Homo sapiens: one gene and its partners. The protein of the gene in region 7 purifies or fractionates together with the protein of the main gene of each other region. This does not show direct contact. Each region holds a gene or a part of one and is shown on either strand. Other genes may lie near its edges.

Region 1 (3,500 bases), on a different chromosome or scaffold from region 7:
ACAAATTGTCCTCCCTGAGTACCCTGTGTTTCTTTTTTTCTGGGTACTTTGATCACTTTCTTTCTTTTTGGCATTCTGCAGTTTCACTATGACATGTTTAGGTGTCAGTTTTTGTTGATTCTGCTTGAGACTTGTTATATGTCCTTTGAATATTTGAGTTTTTCAATCATTCTGGAAGATTCTCAGCTATTAGCTTTTCAGATATTGCCTGACTCTCATTCTTTTTTCCTGTTCTTCTAGAACTGGCAGCCAGTGCTGGACTTCTGACTCTCTTCGTTGTGTCTTTCGGTTTCTGTTTACTGTTTCCCATCTCACACTGTCTGTGCTGAATTCTGGGGATGCCCTGAGGCCTTCCTGTTTGCTCATTTTCCAGTTCACCAGTTTTCTCTTTGGCCATGTCTAATTGGAATTTTGTTCACATTTCAGTGGCTGTTTTGTAAGTTCTATTTCATTCTATTTCAAATAGGAATTTGAAAATGGACATTTCCTTTTTCAAGTAGAAATGTCAGGCTGTTTCTGTGTCTTATTTGCTCATCTTTTTGACTGCTCCTTTTATACTGTGTATCAGGTTAGTCATACTTACCCCACCGTCTCTATCTGATGGTTTGGTTAGCTTCAGTTCTTGGGAGTATCATTCGCCTGTCTTCTGTCTGCTGGTCTTCACTCATGGTGGATCATTTCCTTGTGGGTTTTGCAACAGAACTTCTATGGGGATTGGTGTGGCCTCAATGGAGGGTGTAAGTCCAAATGTCCTTCTGTTTTGGCCAAGCACTCCAGGGTAAGCAGTTGGAGGCCATTAGTTAGTGCGGAGGGGATGGTTCCTGAATTGAGAGGTGGTTTCATTTGAATTCATTTGAACTCCAGGCACATTGTTACAAATTTTCAGAGGAGGCTTTTTGTTCATTGGGCATAGAGCCCAGGCTAAGCAAGGAAAGCTTCCTGGTCTTTGCCCTGCCTGCCTCTGGGGCTATCAAAGGATCACCTGGCTGTCTGCTTCTCTTTGCTCCCAGAAGTTTCCCTTGCTTTCCGTCAAGCTTGGCTCTGCTCGAAATAGTGTCGTAGTTTACCCAGTTTGGTGGGAAGAGGGTTTTCGATTTATAAACAGAAGTCTGATTCTCTCCCTGTTCCTGTTTCCACCTCGGGGCTTCCATGCCCTCAACTGTCTGTGTCATCCTCTGGGTGACTCACCAAGAGGAAGGATCTAATTCGGGGACTGCACATCAAGGGCAGCCTTGATGCTGGCGTAGGTGCCCAGCCCAGTCAGCGCACCTAGCCCCGGGCACCGAGACAGCCCGCGAGACAGCACCTGCAGCCGCTTCGCTCCATGGCTGCCATTGGTCACATCGGGCTGCTCCCTGCCCTGAAGGCTTAGGACTTTTCTGAGCCTCTGCTGTGCCAGGCTTTGTGGGCTCCTGGCCCTGCTCTGGTGGTCCTCAGAGCCAGCAGCCTTTGAAGGCTGTGAAGCATTCCCTTTCCCCTGGCTTGATAGGCTCTGTCCTGTGGCCGTCTGTTTTTTTTTGGAGGGGGAGCTTTTGAGATGGAGTCTCACTCTGTCTCCCAGGCTGGAGTGCAGTGGCACGATCTTGGCTCACTGCAACCTCCATCTCCCGGGTTCAAGTGATTCTCCTGCCTCAGCCTCCCAAGTAGCTGGGACTACAGGTACACGCCACCATGCCTGGCTAATTTTTGTGTTTTTAGTAGAGATGGGGTTTCGCCATGTTGGTCAGGCTGGTCTTGAACTCCTGACCTCAAGTGATCCACCTGCCTCGGCCTCCCAAAGTGCTGGGATTATAGGTGTGAGCCACTGTGCCTGGTCCTGTGGCCTTCTTATTTCCCCAAATGCCAGGCCTGCTCTGTCTTGGGGCCTGTGCCAGGAGCACTCTTTCCTCTGCTGCCCCATGGCGCAGCCCCCCTAGGCAAGGCCCGGCCTGCCCACCGCCACCTTTCCTGTCTCCTTCCCTGCCCCACTGCTCTCCCAAGCACTCGACACCCCGTCAGTGGCGCTTTTCTCTCTCCCTGCCATGGACTGCAAGCTCCATGGGGTCAGGGATTTTTGTCTGTTTTGTCCCTGCTGTGTCCCCTGCATCGGGTGGCTAGTGAGGGCTCCAGGTGCTTCAAGGAGGTGGAGCGCACTGGGTGGGAAGGCAGGCTCTTACCGGTTGGAAGATTTAGATAAGCTTTGCTGGGCTGGTGTGCAAGGCAGGTGGGCTCAGGAGATGGGCAGGGCCTGTGGCTCCCACTCCAGCCCTGAGGCCTTGCTCTGTCCAGCTCTGGGGCCCTGGCCTTATTCACCCAAGGCTCCAAGAGAACCTGCAGAAGGCAGCTGGTTCTACGCCAGGATGCCCTGGGCACAAAGACTTGCAGACCCTTCCCTTTGTCCACAGCGACTGTCCAGCTCTCAGAACACCTGGGGAGGAGGGCTGTGTCCTTGAGAGCACCGTGGGAAGGAAGGTCCAAGGCCTTCGACCTTTAGGATTCACATCCCCGCCCCGCCAGCCCAATCTAGTTCCCTGGTTTCCCGGGCCAGGCCCCTTTCCACCCTGCATGGCCCTGAGCGGATACTGCGTTCCGTGTCTTCCCCCAGCCCCCAGCCAATGATCCCTGAGGCTTCCCCCTCAGGATCACACCCACCCCTGGATACAGTCCTCGGGTCCTTCACAGGACATTCCCACCACTTCAGCCACACCCCAGCACCCTCAGAGGCGGCCTTCGCCCTTGCTCCCCACCTCTGCTCCTGTGGGGAATCTAAGGATCAAGAAACTGAGAGTCAAGGCCATTGATGAGGGTCAGGGGTGCTGCCACGGGGCCTAGAGTGTGACAGAAAAGCAAATTAAGACAGGAGCAGCTCCTGGGAGAAGCAGACACCAAACAATACGGCTGCTGGCCCAGAGGTCAAAAACCATGGCCTAGAGGGGGCGGTCAGGAAGTGGGACATTAGGCCGGGCGTGGTGGCCCATGCCTGCAATCCCAGCATCTTTGGAGGCCAAGGCAAGTGGATCACCTGAGTTCAGGAGTTTGAGACCAGCCTGGCCAACATGGTGAGACTTCGTCTCTACTAAAAATACAAAAAAAATTCGCTGGGCTTGGTGGCGGGTGCCTGTAATCCCAGCTACTCGGGAGGCTGAGGCACAAGAATCCCTTGAACCTGGGGAGGCAGAGGTTGCAGTGAGCCAAGATCACACCACTGCACTCCAGCCTGGGCAACAGAGCAAGACTCCATCTCAAAAAAAAGAAAAGAAAAAAAAAAGAAAGTTGGCGTTTCAAAGCCAAACAGCTCTGGGCGTTGGATGACAAAGTTCAGATGTGCCCCAGGAGGGGCGACATCAGTGGTGCAGGACAGAGGGCCGGTGGAAGGAGCTGGCTGTACGTAGAAACAAAACCAGATGCCTACTGGTGCATTTAAAAATCAACGTTATTGAGACGTAATTAACATACTATACAATTCTTCCTTTTCCATGTACAGTTTAAATTCATTCACAGAGTTGTGCAGCCATCATCAC
Region 2 (3,500 bases), on a different chromosome or scaffold from region 7:
TTTGACCCAGCCATCCCATTACTGGGTATATACCCAAAGGATTATAAATCATGCTGCTATAAAGACACATGCACAAATATGTTTATCACAGCACTATTCACAATAGCAAAGACTTGGAACCAAGCCAAGTGTCCAACAATGATAGACTGGATTAAGAAAATGTGGCACGTATACACCATGGAATACTATGCAGCCATAAAAAATGATGAGTTCATGTCCTTTGTAGGGACATGGATGAAGCTGGAAACTATCATTCTCAGCAAACTATCGCAAGGACGAAAAATCAAACACCGCATGTTCTCACTCATAGGTGGGAATTGAACAATGAGAACACATGGACACAGGAAGGGGAACATCACACACCGGGGCCTGTTATGGGGTGGTGGGAGTGGGGAGGTATAGCATTAGGAGATATACCTAATGTTAAATGACGAGTTAATGGGTGCAGCACACCAACATGGCACATGTATACGTATGTAACAAACCTGCACATTGTGCACATGTACCCTAAAACTTAAAGTATAATAATAAAAAAAGAATAATGAATATAAACTATTTATTTTTTTTGATGCAAGACTGTTCAATGCCTAGACCTTATTTTAAAAAAGAAATGAGGGCTGCGTGCAGTGGCTCACACCTGTAATCCCAGTACTTTGGGAGGCCGAGGTGGGCGGATCATGAGGTCAGGAGATCGAGACCATCCTGGCTAACACGCTGAAACACTGCCTCTACTAAAAATACAAAAACTTAGCCAGGCGTGGTGGTGGGCGCCTGTAGTCCCAGCTACTCTGGAGTCTGAGGCAGGAGAATGGCGTGAACCCAGGAGGCAGAGCTTGCAGTGAGCCGATATCGCGCCACTGCACTCCAGTCTGGGCGACAGAGCGAGACTCTGTCCCAAAAAAAAAAAAAAAAAAAAAAAAGAAATGCCATTGATTATGGACACATTACTATATATAGTAAGCATTGTCATTGAGTTCTGTTCAAATCAGGTGGTTTTAAGTTGAAATAAATTATCGTTTCAGAGCTCACAGAGCCGGCACAGATATTTTTATTCCCATTTTCAAGAGCCCTTTCAGAGAAATATATATTGATGTTAAAATTCCTAAGAGCAAAATTACATTGCATAATTTTAAAAGTTAGTGAAAAAATGTTGGGCTTTGATTAAGTGACAAAACCCTTCATGATTTAAAATTTGGGAGTACTCACAAATGTTTTAAAAATAAAAATAGATTGCATTTGACAGATTTAATTCAATTTTGCTTATATTGTTTTTTAATATGATTTTTCCCCCCTTGCAGTTTCCGATCATGTGATCCTAACATGTTTTCACTGTATAATTCAGGAACAGTATTACCAACAAGAAAATTGACTGTAGAAAATTATAAAGCAATGCTTGATTTCCTTCTTACAGCCAAAAAAAGAAAGGCCAACTTACCATCAGGTAAAATAAACATGTTAGTTTATTATTAAATTACCTCTAGATTTTTATTCACTAAACAACACAGCACACATACACATTGTGGACACACAAATGTATACACCCAGTTTTCCAAAGGACCAGCAATTTAGTTGAGTTTTGATATTTTGTAGGAGATTCTTGTTTGCTCTATTTTAAAAAATTTCTATATTCTTATGATATTATTGCATATATTTGGAAATATCTATTTTGTATTTTAACCTTAGCCAATTAGATTGTTCAGCAAATATAATGTTTTAAATTTAATATTCATAGCCTTTGGTGGTTCAAGATAGGTGAAGACTTGCTATTGGGTATTATGTTTTAGTGCAAATAAGTTCCCAAGCAAAATCCATCAAACATACTAATACAAGCAGTCACCCAAACTATCATGATAGCTGATTTTGTATTCAGGGGAATCCACCATTGCCCTAGGATTTCCAACCAGCATCTTCCAAGAAAGCTCACTCTAAGATGAATGAAGCCTTGTTATCTAGTCAGGTGACAGGGGGCTCCAAAAGGTAGAGACATGCAGGTAAACAGGGTTCTTTTTTTTTTTTTTTTTTTTTTTTTTTGGAGACGGAGTCTCACCCTATCACCTGGGCTGGAGTGCAGTGGCGATCTCGGCTGGCTGCAACCTCCGCCTCCTGAATTCAAGCGATTCTCCTGCCTCAGCCTCCCCAGTAGCTGGGATTACAGGCACGTGCCACCGCGCCTGGCTAATTTTTTGTATTTTTAGTAAAGACGGGGTTTCACTATGTTGGCCAGGCTGGTCTCCAACTCCTGACCTTGTGATCCACCTGCCTCTGCCTCCCAAAGTGTTGGAATTACAGGCGTGAGCCACTGCGCCCGGCCGAAAACAGGGTTCTTGATCAGGGTGTGCTCTGGAAACTGTAGTCTGACGAACCTGACTAATTTCCACACCCCTTTCCTGCAAAGATGATGGAACCTGGACACTTTCTAACCAATGATATGGTTCATTTCACAAATAAAAATTTATTTCTAATGCCTTTAGGCTCTTACATACTCATATAGACTTTTAGTAATGACATTTTAAGTGCTATGGGATTTATTGCCAACCAGAGTTCTTGGTATGCCAGTTAATGCCCCAGGAGTGTTGATTTATGTTTGAGGGACTTGGCATGCTTTCTGACTTCTTCTAGGATATAGATTAGATTTCACAGGTATGTGCATATCATACTGTGTATAGTGAAGTATTTGAAAGTGAATTCCATAGCCATAGAGTCTGGTTTTTGAATATAGATTTTAGTATACAGCTTCCTGAGTTTTTCTTTTTTTAAAACTGGCTCTCTACCTAAGACCTACCATGAAATTGGCAATAGAATATTTTGCTACCGAGACTTACTATCTAATGCAGGGTTCTAAGAGAAAGTTGGTGGCAGGAGAAAGCCTTCTTTTTTATGCCACACCAGGAGGGGAATGCGTGGCCGAGGTTGCTGCATTGCCTAACTCCAGAGGTGCAGCTCACTTTCTGATATATTGTCTTAGGAATGGCCTGTTTGGGAGGAAATGAAAGGACAGTAGTATTTTCTATTTTTCCTTTCAAAAAACATGTACATTCCTACTTCTGCATTGTTCCTTTTGCCATCGACTTTGTCTGAAATGACGTTCTCTGTATTTCCCCATATAGCTAAATGATGCCCATTCTTTAAGACCCAAATACCTCCTTCTCTAGAAACTTTCCCTGGTTCATTGTATCTCTGATAGTCTTGTCCTTTCTCCAAGTTTATGTAGCATTTGTTATCTGAATTACTCACTTGATCCTTATCACCTACTGTGTTTTCTGGAACTTAATTCTATGTTTTTAATCATGTCATATCTTATTTTTGTACTGTAGATGCTGAAGAATTTTCTACATTTATTAATTCCATAATGAGTGATGAAAATATGTCCAAGACACAAACAGTTTATGACTCAGACTCTCAATCAGGTTCTAGTGCTAAAGAAAAGGACCGAGGAGCAAATTTGTGTGTAATGGATCATTTTATGAAAATCTTTTTATACTGCAGGAGAGCAATGGTAA
Region 3 (3,500 bases), on a different chromosome or scaffold from region 7:
ACCCAGAACTTTAGCTTAGCTTTTTTTTTTTTTTGAGATTGAGTCTTGCTGTCGCCCAGGCTGGAGTGCTGTGGCACGATCTCGGCTCACTGCAACCTCCACCTCCCAGATCGCTGGGACTACAGGCGCGTGCCACCACGCCTGGCTAATTTTTTGTATTTTTAGGGGAGACAGGGTTTCACCGGGTTAGCCAGGATAGTCCCAATCTCCTGACCTCGTGATCCGCCCATCTCGGCCTCCCAAAGTGCTGGGATTACAGGCGTGAGCCACTGCGCCCGGTCTAGGTTAGCTTTTTTTAAAAAGTTATGCTATTTAAATTTCTACTATCAATTCAAACTAATTTTGAATTGGTTAGATGTGTTTCTTGAAGTTTTATGTTAATAATAATAAACTTCTTGTTTCAAATGGAAATATTTTAAAAAGAAACTGTTCTTAAATAAGGCTCCATGGGTCCCATAAGAACTTCAGTGAACTACAAACCCCTCTAATTATATGTAAAAGTGTGTGTGTGTGTGATTTTTCTAGGGATACAGAGCTTTTATCAAATTCTCATAGTTCAAGGACCTCAAGAAGAAAATTTCTCGTTAAAGGGATGATTATACATAGGCATATGTAAACAGGGTATTTTTTTTTTTTTTTGGTCAATTGTTTTCATTGAAAACACAATATATGTACCAAGTTCAAAATTCAAACAGTGTGAAAGAGGGCACTATGAAGAGCCACCCTACCATCAACCTGTCATTAACTCCCCTCCACAGAGAATACTAATAAATCTTTCCAGAAATATTCTATGCATAAATAGCATTACTGCAAATATAAACATATAGCTATGTTTTGGTAGATATTAAGTAAATTTTAGAAAGCAATATAAGCATTGTTCAGGTGAACAAAACCACACTGGAACGGGGTTTCACTGATGAAACAGAACCCTCAAAGTCTCAAAAATACTTTTGTTATTTAATGGTATAGACCAGGGTATAGTCCAAAAATATTTTCTTAAATACCCATATAGTAAATATCTTAGGCTTGTGGGGTATATGGTTTGTGTCATACTTATTCAGCTCAGCCACTCTAGCTTAAAAGCAGCCATAGATCATATAAAACACATGGGCATACTTACTTCCAATAAAACTTTTTTGGGGAAAAGAAAAAAAAAGCAGCTATAGTTCACTGACCCCCAGAACAATCTATAAATGTAGTTTAAACTGACACCCTACTGTAAATTGGTGATACATCATTATGAAATACTTTATTTCTTAATAAATAAATAATATACTCTTGTTTTTGACTCACTTTCTGCCATTTCAGAATCCAGCATTTTAAAACAGCTGTTGTCTAAATACACATGGATCCCATAGGTTTTACTCTATTTTTAAATAAGTGGGCATACCACAGCAACCTTCTTTCCCACCACCAAATCATTCAAAAAGGTATCTTTTACCTGTAGGCCAAGAAAGCTACTGGCCTCTGATGCCCATGTTCATCAGTCATAGAACCGACACTTGGAGGTTCAACAATAACATCATAAATTATTCCTATAAGAAAGACAACAGAACAGATTAGATTGTATTACTAATTTTTGAAAACAGGATTATAGTTTTCATTGTCTCTTAAGGTTCATTTACTTTTTTTGAGACAGAGTCTCACTCTGTCGCCCAGGTTGAGAGTGCAGTGGCGCCACTTGGCTTACTGCCAAACTCCGCCACCCAAGTTGAAGCAATTCTCCTGCCTCAGCCTCCCAAGTAGCTGGGACTACAGGCGCCCACCACCATGCCCAGCTAATTTTTGTATTTTTAGTAGAGACGGGATTTCACCATATTGGTCAGGCTGGTCTCGAACTCCTGACCTCAGGTGATCCACCTGCCTCAGTCTCCCAAAGTGCTGGGATTACAGGTGTGAGCCACTGCACCCGGCCAAGTTTCATTTACTTTTAAATAGGAATGCTTTGATTGTATTATTATAACCAAATGTGGCCCAACTCATCTAAAGTTCTGATAAATCATTCAGACATTCAACTCAATGTTTTAGAATTACTTTGAAAACTGTATGATATCTAAATGAAGTACAAATTTCATAAAGGAAATTCATCCAATAAGAGTTGCTAATACTCAGGAATGACTTTAGTATAAAGGGGATTTAAAACTAAAGGCTCTACTTCGGTTCACAAAAATTGTCTCAGATATGCTTAGATTTGTTTCTATAAATTGAAAAATAACTAGAGAAATTGCTTAAATGTAAAACAAGGAGACATTTTAAAACCACGCCATCAGGCAGAATGGCAATACTAGAGATTCATAATCATTAACATTAATGTCCACCATTATGTCATAATGTCATCGTGATCATTAACATTAATGTTCATCAGCACTAATAGTTTTCTCAATCTCCCACTGTCAACATCTACTCTACCTTCTCCACTGTTCTCAAACATCTTCATCTCCAGCTTTTCTTAAGCATAACAAGCCTATCTCCCTTATCCTAGCCTGACAAAACAATCCTATAGGAATTCCCTTGTCTTTTCCCCACCAAATCTACAAATACCTGGTACCTGCATCCATCCTCACCTCCTTCTTTCCAGCTACAAAGAGGAAGATTCCCACCTCCTATAATGTGGGATCCCTTTTGCAATTACCAGGAGTCCATTCCCACTTGGACTCTCAGGGACTTTATTCCTTTGGATATCTCTCCTCTCTCCTGTATTTTCAAGCTCTCCTTCCCTACATCAACCCTCCTTGACTTCAGATCCTCTTAGCTAACATCCTATTTCTATCTTTGCTTTCTGAAAGGGAGTCAGACTTTCTTCTGGAAGACTTAGGCAAACTTGCCATCTCCCCTTTCTTACTTACCCTTCATTCTTCAACTCAATCCAATCTGGCTTCTGCAACCATTGATACTGCTCTTTCTAAGGTCACCAATGATCTCCATGTTGTCAAATTCAATAGACACTTTTCAGTTCTCATCTTAGGGGACTTCTCAGAAGCACTCAATCCAGTTTACTAAACCAATTTCTTGAAAAACACCTCTTCTTATGGCTTTTGTGATACTCCTCTTCATGTTTTCTTGCTACCTCTCTATTGGGCCTCTTCTTTTATAAAAGAACTAAATGTTGGAGGCCCTCAGGGATTGGTCCACTGTCCTCTTCTACTTTTCTCCAAAATGAACTCCCAGGGCTTTCAATTTCATGTGCTAAAGACTCTCAATGTGATGTGCCAAGGCCTCTCAAATAATGCCAGTACCATTAGAATTACATGTAAGCTCCTCAAGAACAGAGACTTTGGACTTTGCCTATACTCTTCAATGTCTCATGGGAGTTCCAGAAATGTCTGTTAGTTGACCAACTTCAACACAGGCCTCTTTTCTCAGGTCTAGACTCCCATCTGCACATGTGACATATCCAACTAATTTTACCCCAAAACAACCTCTGGTGCACCATTTTCCACCAAAAACTTTGTTTTCTCAATCTCAGGAAATGATACTTCCATCTATTCAGGAGCTCAAAC
Region 4 (3,500 bases), on a different chromosome or scaffold from region 7:
GGCCGGTCAGCCAGGGAAGGGCCTCTCAGAAGATTCTAGAAACTCCCGAGTTGCACAGGCAGCCCTGAGCCCTTTCTTTAGTGACAGGCGGCTCAGATTTCATGTCACACAGCCCATATCGTCAACACCACCATTCCCCTGATTGTTTTGTTCTTACCACACTTGTTTTTCAACAGAGAATCCAGGCCAGAGCCTGAACAGACTATTTCAGGAAGTACCGAAACGAAGAAATGGGTCTGAAGGTATGTTGCAGGCAGGCGTTTTCTTTGCAGTCAGTCACCTAGGGAAGCAGCATGTCCTTAGCTGTGTATTTGGGTTAAAACTGTGCAGTGTGATTCTGGCCTGGAACCTGATGGAAAAACAGCTAGTAAGTATAAAACAAGGCACGGGTTCAAGCACACCCAGCCCCTTCCTCCCGAGCTGCCTGCCCTCTCCCAAGCACAGGCGGGGGTGAGAAGAGGCATTGCTAAGCTAAGCCCCCCGAGTCTGAATCCCAGCCCACTTCAGATCCTAATTACCCGGTCCCCCGTTTTTCTCAGACGCAGTTGAAAAAATAACAGCGGTTGCTCTGAGAAAAGTCAGGTGACCCGTCAAATTAAATACTGCTGCTTCCTCGTATTTTTAACTCGGAAACACACTCAAGGTCCTATGGAACGGACGCATCCCACATCGTCCCGGTGGCATACTTGTTTTTAAATGGTGGTATACTTGTTTTGAATGCAGTGGTTCCTATTTAGGAAGGTAGTAAGAAATTAAACTATCCGGGTGGCTTCCCGAAAGAGCTGGGGCCAGCCCCTGGGCCATAGTAGCCTCATTTCGTCGGCACGTGTGCCTGCACAAAACATCACCATGTGGCCGAAAGAATCCATCCTCCCCACTTAGGAATTTCTGCAGGCTCCTTTCCTCGTATGTAAATTTTAAAAAGATATTATGTGATAATAGGTGCAAACAATTTTTTAAGTTAAGCCTTTCTTCACCCTGTGCCTCTGAATGATTGATAGACAATCAGCCTCAAACCCTCTGCCCTCCTTTTCCGTTTATCCTGTGTGGGACCCCAGCATCCAATAAACATCTAACCCCGAGGAGAGTCAGTCCCAAGCCACAGCAGTTGCTTCTAAGTGACTCATGAGAAACATTGCCTTTTAATCACTCGCCTTTTATATATATGGATTAAATGATCGGTTCTCCCGGGTACTAACCCACGGGTGGTGTCCGGCTTTGGCAGAGTAACATTGACCGTAAGGTCAAATGAGCAGGAAATCCCTCCTGCCCGGTGTCGCTGTGAAGTTGCACTCACAGCAAACACAGGCCACTGGGAGGCCACATCTGCCTCCTTGTGTCACCAGCCCCCACCCGGGGCTATATATCAGAATGACGTCTTCGCGCAGCGCTGATTTTTGTCCGGGGTTTGGGTTTGATGTCATTGGCGCAACTTCTCCCCACAGGTAACATCACCACCCGGATCCGAGCCTCGGAGACTGGCTCTGATGAAGCCATCAAGTCCATCCTAGAGCAAGCCAAGAGGGAGCTCCAAGTGCAGAAAACTGGTACAGCTTCCATTTCTTCATCCACTGTCTTCAAACTTAATTAAGAGAATTGTCATGAGTGCTCTGGTCAGCAGTAATTAACTATTTTTTTTTTAAACAATAATGAATGCCTGTTCTCAAGCATTTAGGCACGTAGAGAGAAGCAGGTCTGTGTGATCTGTATTTGCCTAATAGTTACCTTTTTTTTTGAGATGCAGTCTCTCTCTGTTGCCTGTGCTGGAGTGCAGTGGCACGATCTCAGCTCACTGCAACCTCTGCCTCCCGGGTTTAAGCGATTCTCCTGCCTCAGTCTCCCGAGTAGCTGGGACTATAGACATGTGCCACCATGCCCATGATATTTGTGTTTTTAGTAGAGACGGGGTTTTACCATGTCGGCCAGGCTGGTCTCGAACTCCTGACCTCCAGTGATCCTCCCACCTCGGCCTCCCACGGTGCTGGGATTACAGGTGTGAGCCACCGCGCCTGGCCCCTAGTTGTAATTATTCACAGAAATTACGCTCCTTAACTTTGACAGAACCACTTGCATTTCAGAATATAGCACAGGAAAATGAATACCAAGTATAAAAATTATCAGAGGTCAGGCGCGGTGGCTCACACCTGCAATCCTGGCATTTTGGGAAGCTGATGGGGGAGGATGACTTGAGTTCAGGAGTTTAAGACCAGCCTATGCAACACAGTGAGAGACCTTGTCTCTTAAAACACTAGCCAGGCATGGTGGCATGCACCTGTGGTCCCAGCTACTTGGGAGGCTGAGCTGGGAGGATTGCTTGAGCCAGGGAGGTGGAGGGTGGGTACAGTGAGCCGTGATCGTGCCACTGCGCTCCAGCCTGGACAACAGCGAGATCCTGTCGCTAAAAAAAAAAAAAAAAAAAAAAAAAAAAATTCTCGGGGAAAGGAGCCCCAGGAGGGCAGGTCGGGGAGCACTTTCACTGACACCCCCTTTATTACCCTCTACATCTGTGTGTATACCAAAGGCCACCAGGTCATCAAGCTGTAGTGTCAGGCCCTGGTCCTTGGTTGAGACAAGATGCCTGAATGTTTCACTGACAGGGGCCATGCTGGGGAAATACACAGTGTGGTTCTCCCAAATAACCCACACTTTGCAGTAGGTCAAGTTAGGATGAGAAGCATGTCCCCAGCTGAAGGGGGCCGCCCTGCCACACTCTCACCCCTGTTTCTCCATGCAGCAGAGCCGGCCCAGCCTTCCTCCGCATCCGGCAGCGGGAACTCTGATGACGCCATCCGCTCCATCCTGCAGCAAGCCCGCCGGGAGATGGAGGCCCAGCAGGCTGCCCTCGACCCTGCCTTAAAGCAGGCACCACTGTCCCAGAGTGACATCACCATCCTCACCCCCAAGCTTCTGTCCACCTCGCCCATGCCCACCGTGTCCAGCTACCCACCTCTCGCCATCTCCCTGAAGAAGCCCTCCGCAGCTCCTGAGGCCGGTGCCTCTGCTCTGCCGAACCCCCCGGCCCTCAAAAAGGAGGCCCAGGACGCCCCCGGGCTGGACCCCCAGGGAGCAGCCGATTGTGCACAAGGGGTCCTGAGACAGGTGAAAAATGAGGTGGGCCGCAGCGGTGCCTGGAAGGACCACTGGTGGAGCGCGGTGCAGCCGGAGAGAAGAAATGCCGCCTCCTCCGAGGAGGCCAAGGCCGAAGAAACGGGCGGCGGGAAAGAGAAGGGCAGCGGTGGCAGCGGAGGTGGCAGCCAGCCTCGGGCCGAGCGCAGTCAGCTCCAGGGACCCTCGTCGTCAGAGTACTGGAAGGAGTGGCCCAGCGCTGAGTCCCCATACTCCCAGAGCTCAGAGCTGAGTCTGACCGGGGCCAGCCGCAGCGAGACACCACAGAACAGCCCCCTGCCATCCTCCCCGATCGTGCCCATGTCCAAGCCCACCAAGCCCTCGGTCCCCCCGCTGACCCCCGAGCAGTACGAGGTCTACATGTACCAGGAGGT
Region 5 (2,609 bases), on a different chromosome or scaffold from region 7:
CCACCTTCCCCCCGCCACTACTCTTCCCAGTAGTCTCTGGTAACCATCCTTCTACCTTTATCTCCATGAGTTCAATTGTTTTGATTTTTAGGTCCCTCAAATAAGTGAGAACATGCGATATTTGTCTTTCTGTGCCTGGTTTGTTTCACTTAGCAGAATGACCTCCAGTTCCATCCATGTTGTTACAAACAACAAACTCTCATTCTTTTTGATGGCTGAATAGTACTGCATTTTGTATAAGTACCACATTTTCTTTATCCATTTATCTGTTGATGGACATGTAGCTTGCTTCCAAATTTAAGACATTATTTGTAAGAACCAAAAACTAGGGCCTGGCACGGTGGCTCACACCTGTAATCCCAGCACTTTGGGAGGCTGAGGCGGGCAGATCACGAGGTCAGGGGATCGAGACCATCCTGGCTAACATGGTGAAACCCCATCTCCACTAAAAATACAAAAAAAAATTAGCCTGGTGTCGTGGCGGGTGCCTCTAGTCCCAGCTGCTAGGGAGGCTGAGGCAGGAGAATGGCATGAACTCGGGAGGCGGAGCTTGCAGTGAGCCGAGATCGCGCCACTGCACTCCAGCCTGGGCGACAGAGCGAGACTCCGTCTCAAAAAAAGGAAAGTACTTTGACAACAGAAGTCTGTGTTGAAATCTAAAACCTCTATTGCTTGTTCTTATCAAAGTAGCTATCTAGGTAGCATGTTCTCTGATGCAGGAGCTGACTTCTGTTTTTTCAAACCTCTTTCCCTTTAGACGTTTTGGAATAATGGGACTCTACAAAGGCCTTGAAGCCAAACTGCTGCAGACAGTCCTCACTGCTGCTCTCATGTTCCTTGTTTATGAGAAACTGACAGCTGCCACCTTCACAGTTATGGGGCTGAAGCGTGCACACCAACACTGAGACGCCTTCCCATGAAAAATTCCGAAGATGCTCAAGAGGGAGGTTTCCTCCTGAGTGAAGAGAAGTGATTCTCCCTTGACTCTGGCTCCTGCCACCACAAATGTTACCCTCATTGGCTTGAAAAGCATCCAAGGGTGCACAGGGAGTATGGCCAACTGGACCTGTTGTCACCTTAATTGTCATGCTGGCTGGTTGGATTTTGGGGTGGCAGTTGGACTAATGTGAAAAAAACATTGCTGAAAACCTAAAAATGAAAGTTTGTGAGTGTTTATTGGTTTTCTTAAGAGAAATGGACTATTTTGCTCTCATGTGTAATGTTTTCTATTTAAATCTTTCTTAAATATACCAGCTGTTCTCTTTCCCTGAACTCTCCCCCAGGTTCTAGGACAAATTTAATAACATGTAATTCTCCTCAAATACTTTTGTATGTCTCAGTGTTGGTGTTTTCCTCCCTAAAACTAACATTAGGGCTGTGCCACGGGCATGACTTTATTTTTGTTGGGCTTTTTTTTCCCTGCTTAAGGAGAGGTGTCTTTTTTGGATATGAGCTATTTATTTTGTGAAATGAAAATTGTTCACCCAAATGATTCTCTTATAAACTATTTGTAAATGTCACTTATTCATTAGTGTTTGACATAATTTTTAGAATATTTATTTTGAATCAATCCTTTCATTACGAAAGACTTGAAGTTTTGTGTCCATTCTTACAAGCCCTGGTCAGTCAAGTCCCAATAAATGGTCAGCACAAAAAAGATATTCTTGAAAATTGCTCTTTATTAAGGTATTACGTTGAGTTTGCAACCAGATGGGAAAAATCACAAAAATGAGAAGGGGAGCAGATATCTTGTTGAGGTCTGGATATTATCTCCCTTTATAAACTTGGTGTAGGCCGTATATTTTGAAAATAAACATCTGGTTGAGGTTATTTCATTTGGAAACCTTCCTTAGAGTCCTGTTGCTCAGTGTGGTCCATCAGACGGTAGTACTGCCACAAGCTGAGAGCTTGCTGGGCACGCAACCCAGAGTTTCTGAATCCTGTTCCGTATTTTAACATTCCCAGGTGATTCACAGCCACATTAAAGTTCAGGAGACCATAGGACCCCTGACCCATGAGAAGAAGTGATTGGTTTCGATTATAGACATCAAGATAAAGATTTTTCTCAAAGGAAAGAGATTAATGTATTAAAACAACCTCTGAAAAATCTAGGAGTCGTATGTCATCTTTTGCTTTCACCTCACAGCACGTTGTTAAGGTGGTAAGGCTTTTATTATGCGGCCAGGAGTGGATTTAGATATCTCGACCCACTCAGGAAGCAAATTCACTTGACATTAGCAGAGCGGTTCTTTGGATTTCTATGACTTCCTTTTTGTCCCTATGACAAAATGGCGGGTTTTTCATTTGTAAGTCCATGATTTAGTCAGAGAGAGTAATAATGAAATACTTCATTATTAAGGATTTAGTTCAATTTTGAGAGTGGAAATTTCCTTCTCTTATTTCCTCTCTTTAGTCCCTGTGGTAATTTCAAAGTATATGATTGTTAAAGATCATTGCATTGTTCTAGCAAACAAAAATTAGCAGGAGCTAATAATCTGGGAAGAAGACTGAACATTCATCCCCTATTTAAGTCAGAGAATTGAAGACAGAATTGTTTTTTCTATTTTTTAATTTTACTTTAAGGTTTTTGTGTGCCTGTGGCAGACCTT
Region 6 (3,500 bases), on a different chromosome or scaffold from region 7:
GGAGTTCCCAGGTAGCCTGTGGGCTCAGAAGGATTCCTGAGACTGAGAGCAGTTTGAGTTGAAATGTTGGCTTAAATCTTGATGAATGAACATTTTCATATCCTGTTTCTAGGCCTGAGGGTTTTGTTGTTAATGTTGTGGTCTTTCTATTTTATGTCTCAACTTAGTGGAACAGGCAGTGTTGAGAAGTCAGGTATCATGGATTCTGGCCTCGGCTTTGCCATGGACCAGCTGTGTCACTTTGAACAAGTCATGGAATCATAGTAGGACTTTAGAGCAAACTTAGAGACTTGAGAGGAAACTTAGAGAAGAGCTGACCAAACCTCTTAGGTGTCAAAATAAGGCAATGAGTGAGGGTAGAAATGAGGTGAAGCAGAAAGGGTCTGCATGAGGTCAAGGCCCAAGGTCATCTGCACATCCCTGCAAAACACTGCCTGCCTGTGCTTTGGTTTTTGAGTCTGTAAAATGGACAATTTAGAGTAGATGGCCTTAATTATTCGTCCATCCACAGATTTCACGTTTCTGTTTCTACCCTGTACGTCAGTTGGATTATTTAATTTTCTGTGTAGTAGATTCTACCTGACCAAGTTCAATAAAGAAAATAAGTGTGTCTTTCGTCCTTAGAGTTTCATTCCAGGGCTTTATATTACAAGTTGGCAGTGGAGCAGCTGCAGAGCCATCCCGAGGCACAGGAAGCTCTGGGCCCTCCTCTCAACATCCATTATCTCAAGCTCATCGACAGGGAAAACTTCGTGGACATTGTTGATGCCAAGGTAATGTGCTTTCCCTGCGAACCGCAGGCTGGTGCCTGCTGAAGGAGAGGAGAGTCTACTGTCTCCTGGAAAGTCCTGGAGTTAAGGATTTGGGATGGGAAAATCCACTAAGTAAAGCTAGGTTTGGCACCTTTAAAAAAAGTTTTTCTATTATGGATTTTAATGTTTATATAAAATATATTTTATATTATAGATATTTCTGTATACTTTTCTTCCATTCTGGGGAATTGATGTGGCAGGGAATGCAGTGGGTATGCTGATGTCGCCATCTTGAATTGAAGGTAGTAGAGAAATGACCAGTGGTGGTTTGCTACCATGTTGGCTTTGATAGCTCTCAGCACTTTGGGAGGCTGAGGTAAGAGGATTGCTTGAGCCCTGGGGTTTGAAACCAGCCTGGGCAACACAGCAAGACCCTGTCTCTCTCTCTCTCTCTCTCTCTCTCTCTCTCTCTGTCTCTCTGCCTGCCTGCCTGCCTGCCTGCCTGCCTGCCTATCTATCTATCTATCTATCTATCTATCTATCTATCTATCTATCTATCTAATCTATCTATCTATAATTTAGCCAGGCGTGATAGTGCACACCTATAATCCCAGCTACCCAGGAGGCTGAAGCAGGAGGATCGCTTGAACCCAGGAGTTGGAGGCTGCAATGAGTTATGATCATGTCACTGCACTCCATCCTGGGTGACAGAGTGAAATTGTCTGTAAAATTAAAAAAAAAAGAGAAATGCATCTATATCCAGTCAGTGCTCATTCAAATGTACCCAACTCTTTAAACTTTGATTTTTAAAGTGTATTTATTTACATTGCTTCCACAGAATACCAACCCATTTTTTTAGCTATAACTTATCTTTTTGTACTTGATCACACTCACTTGCATGTAAAACACATTTGTTCTGTTTAACAAACATATTTTGAGTATATGCTCTGGTTTGAGAAATGATTCTAAGCTATGTGGGGAATAGAGGTGCAGAAGGCTTTTGGGGGTTTACAGTTGAAAATTCCTGAGTAAGACAGGGTGAGGGAAACCCTGTCACTATTGTGCAGGCCTAGGGGAAGTGGCTCGAGGCCTGGGAGATGGCTGTGAGGACTTTGAAAGGTGGAGAGGAACACCCGGCTGAGGAGCAGCATGCCTGGGAAAGTTCATCACTGTGTCGCCTGTCAGTGTGATACGGCAGTGGAGGCACAGGTGGGCGAGGTGGGTGTGGGCAGGTAGGAGGGGCTGCGGCCACCAGGGGCCACAGTGTCATCTTGGAAGGTGTGTGCTTGACTCTGGCAGCAGAAGCCCGTAAAGTATTTGGAGGATGAGTGAGGTGATCCGACCTACATTATTTTTTGTTATTTTTAGTATGTTCTTAATGGACCCAGCTCTAATGAGACTTTTTTCTAACTACAAAAGCAATTCATGCTCTGGTATTCTGATTAAAATATTCGGTTTTAAAAGAAGGTGGATTTGTGTAGATTGGTAATGCCCAGGGACTGGCTACGGGGAGCCATCTTTAGGAGAGAGATGTGGCCACACTGGTGTGCAGTGGTGAGAGCATGAACCAGAGGTGTGGCCTGGAGAAGCAAAAGACGGATGTGAAGCCATCGTGGCATCCAAGTGACAGAACTTGGTAACAGTCATGTATCAGGAGCGGGTGGGTCAGAGGTGATGGTCCAGTGTCCAGCATGGACGTGAGTGGAAGGACGGCAGCGACACTGCGTGAGAGAGGACATCCTGGAGGAGGAGCACAGGGAAGGGCTGGGCATGTGTGGAGTGCTCACTCTGTGCCAGGCCACCGGATTGCTCCCATGGTGTGGCGGAGCCTGTCTGTTGCTTCCTTGCCTTTGGTCACTTGGCTAGACCCCAGCAATCCTGAGAACTTGGAAAAGCCACTGGGTAGGTCTGGCTGTTGCGTTTCTCTCAGCACAGAGCCCAGCTGTAGCACTGAGGAATTGTGTGCCAAAGGCGCCTTTGCTGGGGCTGGTTGATGCAGCATCCATGATCTGGTGCTCCAGGAACCCCAGTGAGAGTAGGGTAAGGCCATGGTGGTTTTGGTGGGAGCTTTGTCCTGTCCAGCTTTCACTTTGGCCCCAGTGGTGCTGAGAGGGCGCCTTCCTGGGCTTCCCCACATCCCTGGGGCCTTGGCCATGCTGTGACTATGTTGGTTGTGGTGCTAGGTTCTGGCTTCTACTGCGGCCAAATGCTGTGACTCTGCAGTGACAGGAGTTCAGAGTCTGCTGCATCATGGCCACCTGGAGCCTCAGTGCACGCCTTCCAATTTGTGGACTATTTTTGACATTCTGTCAGGGTCCTTTCTTTATAATCAGCGGTTTGTGAGGATGCCTGTATACAGCATATGCCCTCTTATCCCAAATTCCTTTATTTGCAATTTTTACAGTTTTTCCAGAGGTGAGATGTTTCAGTTGTTCATGAAGTAATTGTCATACATTGGGATTTTTTCCCAAGTATGTGTGTGAGATAGTCACCAGTGACCAACACTTTGCTTTACCAGAACTCCTGCTTTAATCTTTGGCAAGGTCTGGCTGGTGAAGGAACCAACCTGTAAAGTGTCACATCTACCCATGGAAGCACAGCTGCCCACAGTTCAGACATTGGCCCCTCAGAGTTTGCTCTTCTTCAGAATCCTTCTTGCTTCTGCCCATTTCTTTCTCCTTCCTTTTTAAATTTTTTTTTAAAGCATCCAGAGATGCTCAGTGTATACTCTGTTGCTTAATTCTATAA
Region 7 (4,163 bases):
GGGTGGGGAGGGGCAGCTCAGAGCAGCTGCTTCTCTGAGGAAGCTGACACCAAGGCCAGCATTCAGCAACAACTTGTGGCTTTGCACCCAGCGCCGGGGTCCCCGCCCACCTGGCTCCCTGCTGTCCCTCTTCCCCACTGCTGCTCGGACTTCCCTCTGACCCTGGTGGCTCTGTGTCTCTGCTCCCTTTCCCCCTAGGTCTAGACATCTGTCCTTATTTCCCCCAGACCTGTCCCCAGAAGTCCACCCTTCCCCATTCCTTTGGTCTGGAGCCCCTGCTTGGTCCAGCTTCCCCAGGCCCCGACACCTTTCTGTGGGGTCTGCCTAGCTCCTGCACGCACACAGCATGGGCCTGATCCTGTTCCCCTCGTGGACAGATGCAGCAGGGCAGAGTGCAGCGCAGACCACAGGCCTCTGGGGCTGGCCACAGAAACCCCGTTGGTTAGAGCACAGTGTGGGATGAGGTGACCCTCAGTGCACGACTTGGGGTGACCCCTGCCCCCATCCTGAGACAGTTACCCCTCCCCCTCTGCCATCAGCACATTCTGTAGCCTCTTGGGTTACTTGGCTGCCTTGGTGTCCCATTTTCTTGGGGGTGGGGTGGGGATTCCCTATCCAGGATGGGGGGGCCCTCAGGGCTCTGTTCCCAGAGGCTGAGTTAGAGCGATGGGGAAGGGGGGGGGCAGTTTTGGGGAGAGACAGGCAGTGCTGGCTTTGCTCACCAGGGCCTGGACACTAAATCCCTTGTTGATGGCTGTGGCAACCCCTCCCTAGGGTAGGGTTACCATCTTCGGCCCTGTCCCCTTGACTCTCTCCCCTCACTTCCCCTTGTCCCTCTAGGAGCCACTCACTTCCTCTAGCCCCCAAAAGATGTTCTCCCTTCATCAGTCCCCCAAAGGCTTGGGGTATCTCTGCCACTGCTTCAGCAAATGGGGTGAGGAGGAAGGAGACTGCGGCAATGGAAACAGGCTCCGGGCAGATGAGGCAGGAAGGGGGGTGTGAGGAAAGGGACAGGTGAGGCCGGGGATGGAAGAGGGCTCCGGGAAGAACTGGGGGGATGAGTTTGGAATGGGAAATTCAATGCAGCTGGGGAAGTCGAGGCAATGGGGGGGCAGGGTCAGTAGCAGATGACAGAAAGTGAAGTCTCTCCCTACCCCACTTCCCTGGGGCTGGGGCTACCTTTGCGTCCCTCATGAGTGACATCTCAGGCTGCAGCCCCACTGTTCCCCCTCTGTCAGCAGAAATATCTCTCTTTTCTGACCACCTCCTGCTGGAGTCTCAGCCAGCCAATCCCTGATCTGGTGGAGGGGGGAGCCCGGCCTCCCCCTGCTCCCTCATAAGGACCAGCTGGGGGCCGGGGGGTGGCCGGCTGCTCAAGTGGGACGGGGGTCAGAGCTTTGTGGAGGGAAGAAAAACCTGGAGGGGGCAGGAGAGTAAAAAGAAGAAACCCAGGCAGACAGGCAGTTGGACACACTGAGGAAGACCCCCCACGAGTGGGAACCCCCTGGAAGGAACACACCGGCCCCGGCCCCCAGGAAGGGAGCACAATGGAGGCCGCTCATGCTAAAACCACGGAGGAATGTTTGGCCTATTTTGGGGTGAGTGAGACCACGGGCCTCACCCCGGACCAAGTTAAGCGGAATCTGGAGAAATACGGCCTCAATGGTAAGTGTCCCTTGGAAGAGCGGCTGGTAATTAATGCCCTCCTGCACCCCCAAAACACACGCACACGCATGCACGCGTTTCTCCCTTCAGGGTTTCTTAAGGAAGAGCTGGGCCGTTGTCCAATGCTCGCAGGGGGAAGAAGATACTGAGAAAACAGAGTCCCGAGATCCAGAGTTTTGGGAGGTTTTAATGGGATGAACTTGATGAACCTCAAGGTGGCCTGATTCTCTTAGCCACAAAGTCTTGGGTGTGGGGGGCATGAGGCTGAACCCCAAATGAATCTGTCCTTTTCTTCTTTTTCCTGGGTAGAGCTCCCTGCTGAGGAAGGTAAGTTACTGGAATCCCTGAACTCTCATAAATGACCACCCCCCACCCCGCCCTGTCCCACTCCCTCCTCCCTGCCTCTTTAGATTCTTTGAGCAAATATCCCTTCCCAAAAGGCAAATCTCCCTCCCTAAAGGTTAGAGTCCTGTCCGGGGCAGAAGTCTCCCAGGCGCTTTCTCCTTGAAGCAGCCAACCCTTGAACTGCCCCCCACTTTGCCGAGTCTGTTTCTGGACTCCAGGCGAGCTTCTTAGCCCTTCTCTGGGCACCAAGCTGTCTGCCCACCACCCTAGAGCCTCCCCACTGCAGGCCGGAGTCCAGGGCGCTCCATCCCAGACCTTCACCCACTAGACCTTAACCCGGGGCCCTCCCCTTGCCTCCTCCCCCAGGGAAGACCCTGTGGGAGCTGGTGATAGAGCAGTTTGAAGACCTCCTGGTGCGGATTCTCCTCCTGGCCGCATGCATTTCCTTCGTAAGTGTGGGAGGGTCTCTGGGGGCTGGCTGGGGGTGTGAGGCTGGGATCGGGCGAATGCGGGGCTCGCAGTCACTGGATCCTCCCGTCCGAGTCCCGAGCATCCCATTGTACAGACGGGGCGGGCTGGCGCGCAGCAGCGGGTGTGATTCGCGTCCTCCTCTCTCCTCCCCTGCACCCCAGAGGCAGGTTTTATTTTAAGCTTTAAGGGTGTTCTCAGCCAAAACACCGAAGCTAAGCCACCCTCGCGGCTTCAAGAGCTTGGAGAGCTCGGGTTACCCACCCGAACTCCGGGCTCCGGGTCCCGCCGCGATGCCGGCTGCGGCGCGGGGGGCCACTGCCACTCCCGGCATGCGCCGGGCGGACGGCCGCTCCACCAATCCCCGCGCCCGTCGGCGCCCCTGCCCCGCCCTCCCCAGCCTCCTGACGCTGATTGGTCGAGGGGAGGACTCGCTCCTAGTGGCGGGAAAGCGCGGCGGTGTGATGATGACTCCAAGGAGCCCGGCGCCCGGTCAGGGAGGGCACTGGCATCCCTCATTACCCGCCCAGCCTGGCCTTAGCCCTTCCCCGCGCTCCCTAGGCACCCCCACCCCCGCAGGGCATCTCCAGGGCTCTGCCTCCTCTCCCGCCCTGGGGGCTACTCCCCATCCCGCGGTCCATCTGCATGTCGCGGGTTCTTCCGCAGCATGTGAGCCTCGCTGGGGACTCTGGAGGCAACGAAAGCCTCCCTGTGCCTTGGTCTCCGAACGCAGGCCCCGTCGCGTTAAGCACAAGCTGGCAGGGCCTCTCCTCTCCCTTCTCAGATTTGCTCCTTGACATTTGCCTGCTGCCTGGCGGTGGCAACAGCTGGGGCGGGGCGCGCGCAGGAGGCCCCGTAACCCTATCCCCGCTCCGGCTCCCTCGTGAAACCGGAGCTTCCCTGCCTTGGCCGAGGGGGAGGGCTGCGGGGGCCAGACCGCCTGCGAAGACCACAGGGTTTTTCCTCTCGGGTTTTGGCTCCCGTGGGATGGATGTGGCTGTGCGGGGGGTTGGCCTGAGCTTCGCTTCTAAGCCAGCAGCTTGGTCAGGGAAACCTGAAAGCATTCCCAGCTAATCCCCCAAGTGGTGCAAGTCTGTGCGCGCCCATCCCGCTGAGTAAGGCGGTGGCAGGACCTGCAGTGGATGGACAGACCCTCAGACGGATGTGGGGCCACAGCGCCCCGACGGTGCCCGGCCCTCCTGCTGGCTCCTGCACTCTCCTGCACAGTTCTCCCCTTTGCAGTGGTCCACTTCCTTTCTCCATCTGTTTTGGGGCCTCATTACCTGTCATTCTCCTTTCCCCTGCTCCCCAGGTGCTGGCCTGGTTTGAGGAAGGTGAAGAGACCATCACTGCCTTTGTTGAACCCTTTGTCATCCTCTTGATCCTCATTGCCAATGCCATCGTGGGGGTTTGGCAGGTTAGCGTTGACCCTTCCTTACCCCTTCATGTCCCAACAGTGAAGAAGAGGCCAACCCTCCCTCCAGTCTCCTCCTCCTCCATCACCTCCCCCATACTTGCCTCTTCCTCTGGTCCTATCCCCTGGTCTGGAATGGGATGGAGTGTGGGGAAGAGGTGGGAGACTGTGACCCACTGTCACTTCCTGGCTATGTGACCCTGAGCAAGTTCCTTCATCCCTCTGAGCCTCAGTTTCTTCATCCATAAAATGGGGCTAGCAATCCAGTGTG

The links.
Region 1: the proteins of ATP2A1 (region 7) and ABCD1 purify together in Homo sapiens (affinity purification with mass spectrometry; one large-scale study listed by BioGRID and IntAct). This does not show direct contact.
Region 2: the proteins of ATP2A1 (region 7) and CFAP54 purify together in Homo sapiens (co-immunoprecipitation; one large-scale study listed by IntAct). This does not show direct contact.
Region 3: the proteins of ATP2A1 (region 7) and OSTC purify together in Homo sapiens (affinity purification with mass spectrometry; one large-scale study listed by BioGRID and IntAct). This does not show direct contact.
Region 4: the proteins of ATP2A1 (region 7) and CUX1 purify together in Homo sapiens (affinity purification with mass spectrometry, with the first as the bait; one large-scale study listed by BioGRID). This does not show direct contact.
Region 5: the proteins of ATP2A1 (region 7) and SLC25A17 purify together in Homo sapiens (affinity purification with mass spectrometry; one large-scale study listed by BioGRID and IntAct). This does not show direct contact.
Region 6: the proteins of ATP2A1 (region 7) and COA1 purify together in Homo sapiens (affinity purification with mass spectrometry; one large-scale study listed by BioGRID and IntAct). This does not show direct contact.

The regions. Positions count from the first base shown.
Region 1 is NC_000023.11:153,731,356-153,734,855, forward strand, and holds part of ABCD1 (ATP-binding cassette sub-family D member 1), read left to right. Parts: intron 1-3,496; exon of another isoform or gene 3,497-3,500. UniProt on the Homo sapiens protein: ATP-dependent transporter of the ATP-binding cassette (ABC) family involved in the transport of very long chain fatty acid (VLCFA)-CoA from the cytosol to the peroxisome lumen.
Region 2 is NC_000012.12:96,646,577-96,650,076, forward strand, and holds part of CFAP54 (cilia- and flagella-associated protein 54), read left to right. Parts: intron 1-1,298; coding exon 1,299-1,441; intron 1,442-3,314; coding exon 3,315-3,496; intron 3,497-3,500. UniProt on the Homo sapiens protein: Required for assembly and function of cilia and flagella.
Region 3 is NC_000004.12:108,653,599-108,657,098, reverse strand, and holds part of OSTC (oligosaccharyltransferase complex subunit OSTC), read right to left. Parts: intron 1,536-3,500; coding exon 1,442-1,535; intron 1-1,441. UniProt on the Homo sapiens protein: Subunit of STT3A-containing oligosaccharyl transferase (OST-A) complex that catalyzes the initial transfer of a defined glycan (Glc(3)Man(9)GlcNAc(2) in eukaryotes) from the lipid carrier dolichol-pyrophosphate to an asparagine residue within an Asn-X-Ser/Thr consensus motif in nascent polypeptide chains, the first step in protein N-glycosylation.
Region 4 is NC_000007.14:102,198,626-102,202,125, forward strand, and holds part of CUX1 (Homeobox protein cut-like 1), read left to right. Parts: intron 1-176; coding exon 177-242; intron 243-1,445; coding exon 1,446-1,547; intron 1,548-2,734; coding exon 2,735-3,500. UniProt on the Homo sapiens protein: May be involved in intra-Golgi retrograde transport.
Region 5 is NC_000022.11:40,769,130-40,771,738, reverse strand, and holds the end of SLC25A17 (peroxisomal membrane protein PMP34), read left to right. Parts: intron 1-757; coding exon 758-905; 3' UTR 906-2,109; downstream 2,110-2,609.
Region 6 is NC_000007.14:43,642,524-43,646,023, reverse strand, and holds part of COA1 (cytochrome c oxidase assembly factor 1 homolog), read left to right. Parts: intron 1-624; coding exon 625-773; exon of another isoform or gene 774-778; intron 779-3,500. UniProt on the Homo sapiens protein: Component of the MITRAC (mitochondrial translation regulation assembly intermediate of cytochrome c oxidase complex) complex, that regulates cytochrome c oxidase assembly.
Region 7 is NC_000016.10:28,877,125-28,881,287, forward strand, and holds the start of ATP2A1 (sarcoplasmic/endoplasmic reticulum calcium ATPase 1), read left to right. Parts: upstream 1-1,363; 5' UTR 1,364-1,547; coding exon 1,548-1,665; intron 1,666-1,832; exon of another isoform or gene 1,833-1,974; coding exon 1,975-1,992; intron 1,993-2,364; exon of another isoform or gene 2,365-2,376; coding exon 2,377-2,459; exon of another isoform or gene 2,460-2,797; intron 2,798-2,918; exon of another isoform or gene 2,919-2,970; intron 2,971-3,790; coding exon 3,791-3,895; intron 3,896-4,163. UniProt on the Homo sapiens protein: Key regulator of striated muscle performance by acting as the major Ca(2+) ATPase responsible for the reuptake of cytosolic Ca(2+) into the sarcoplasmic reticulum.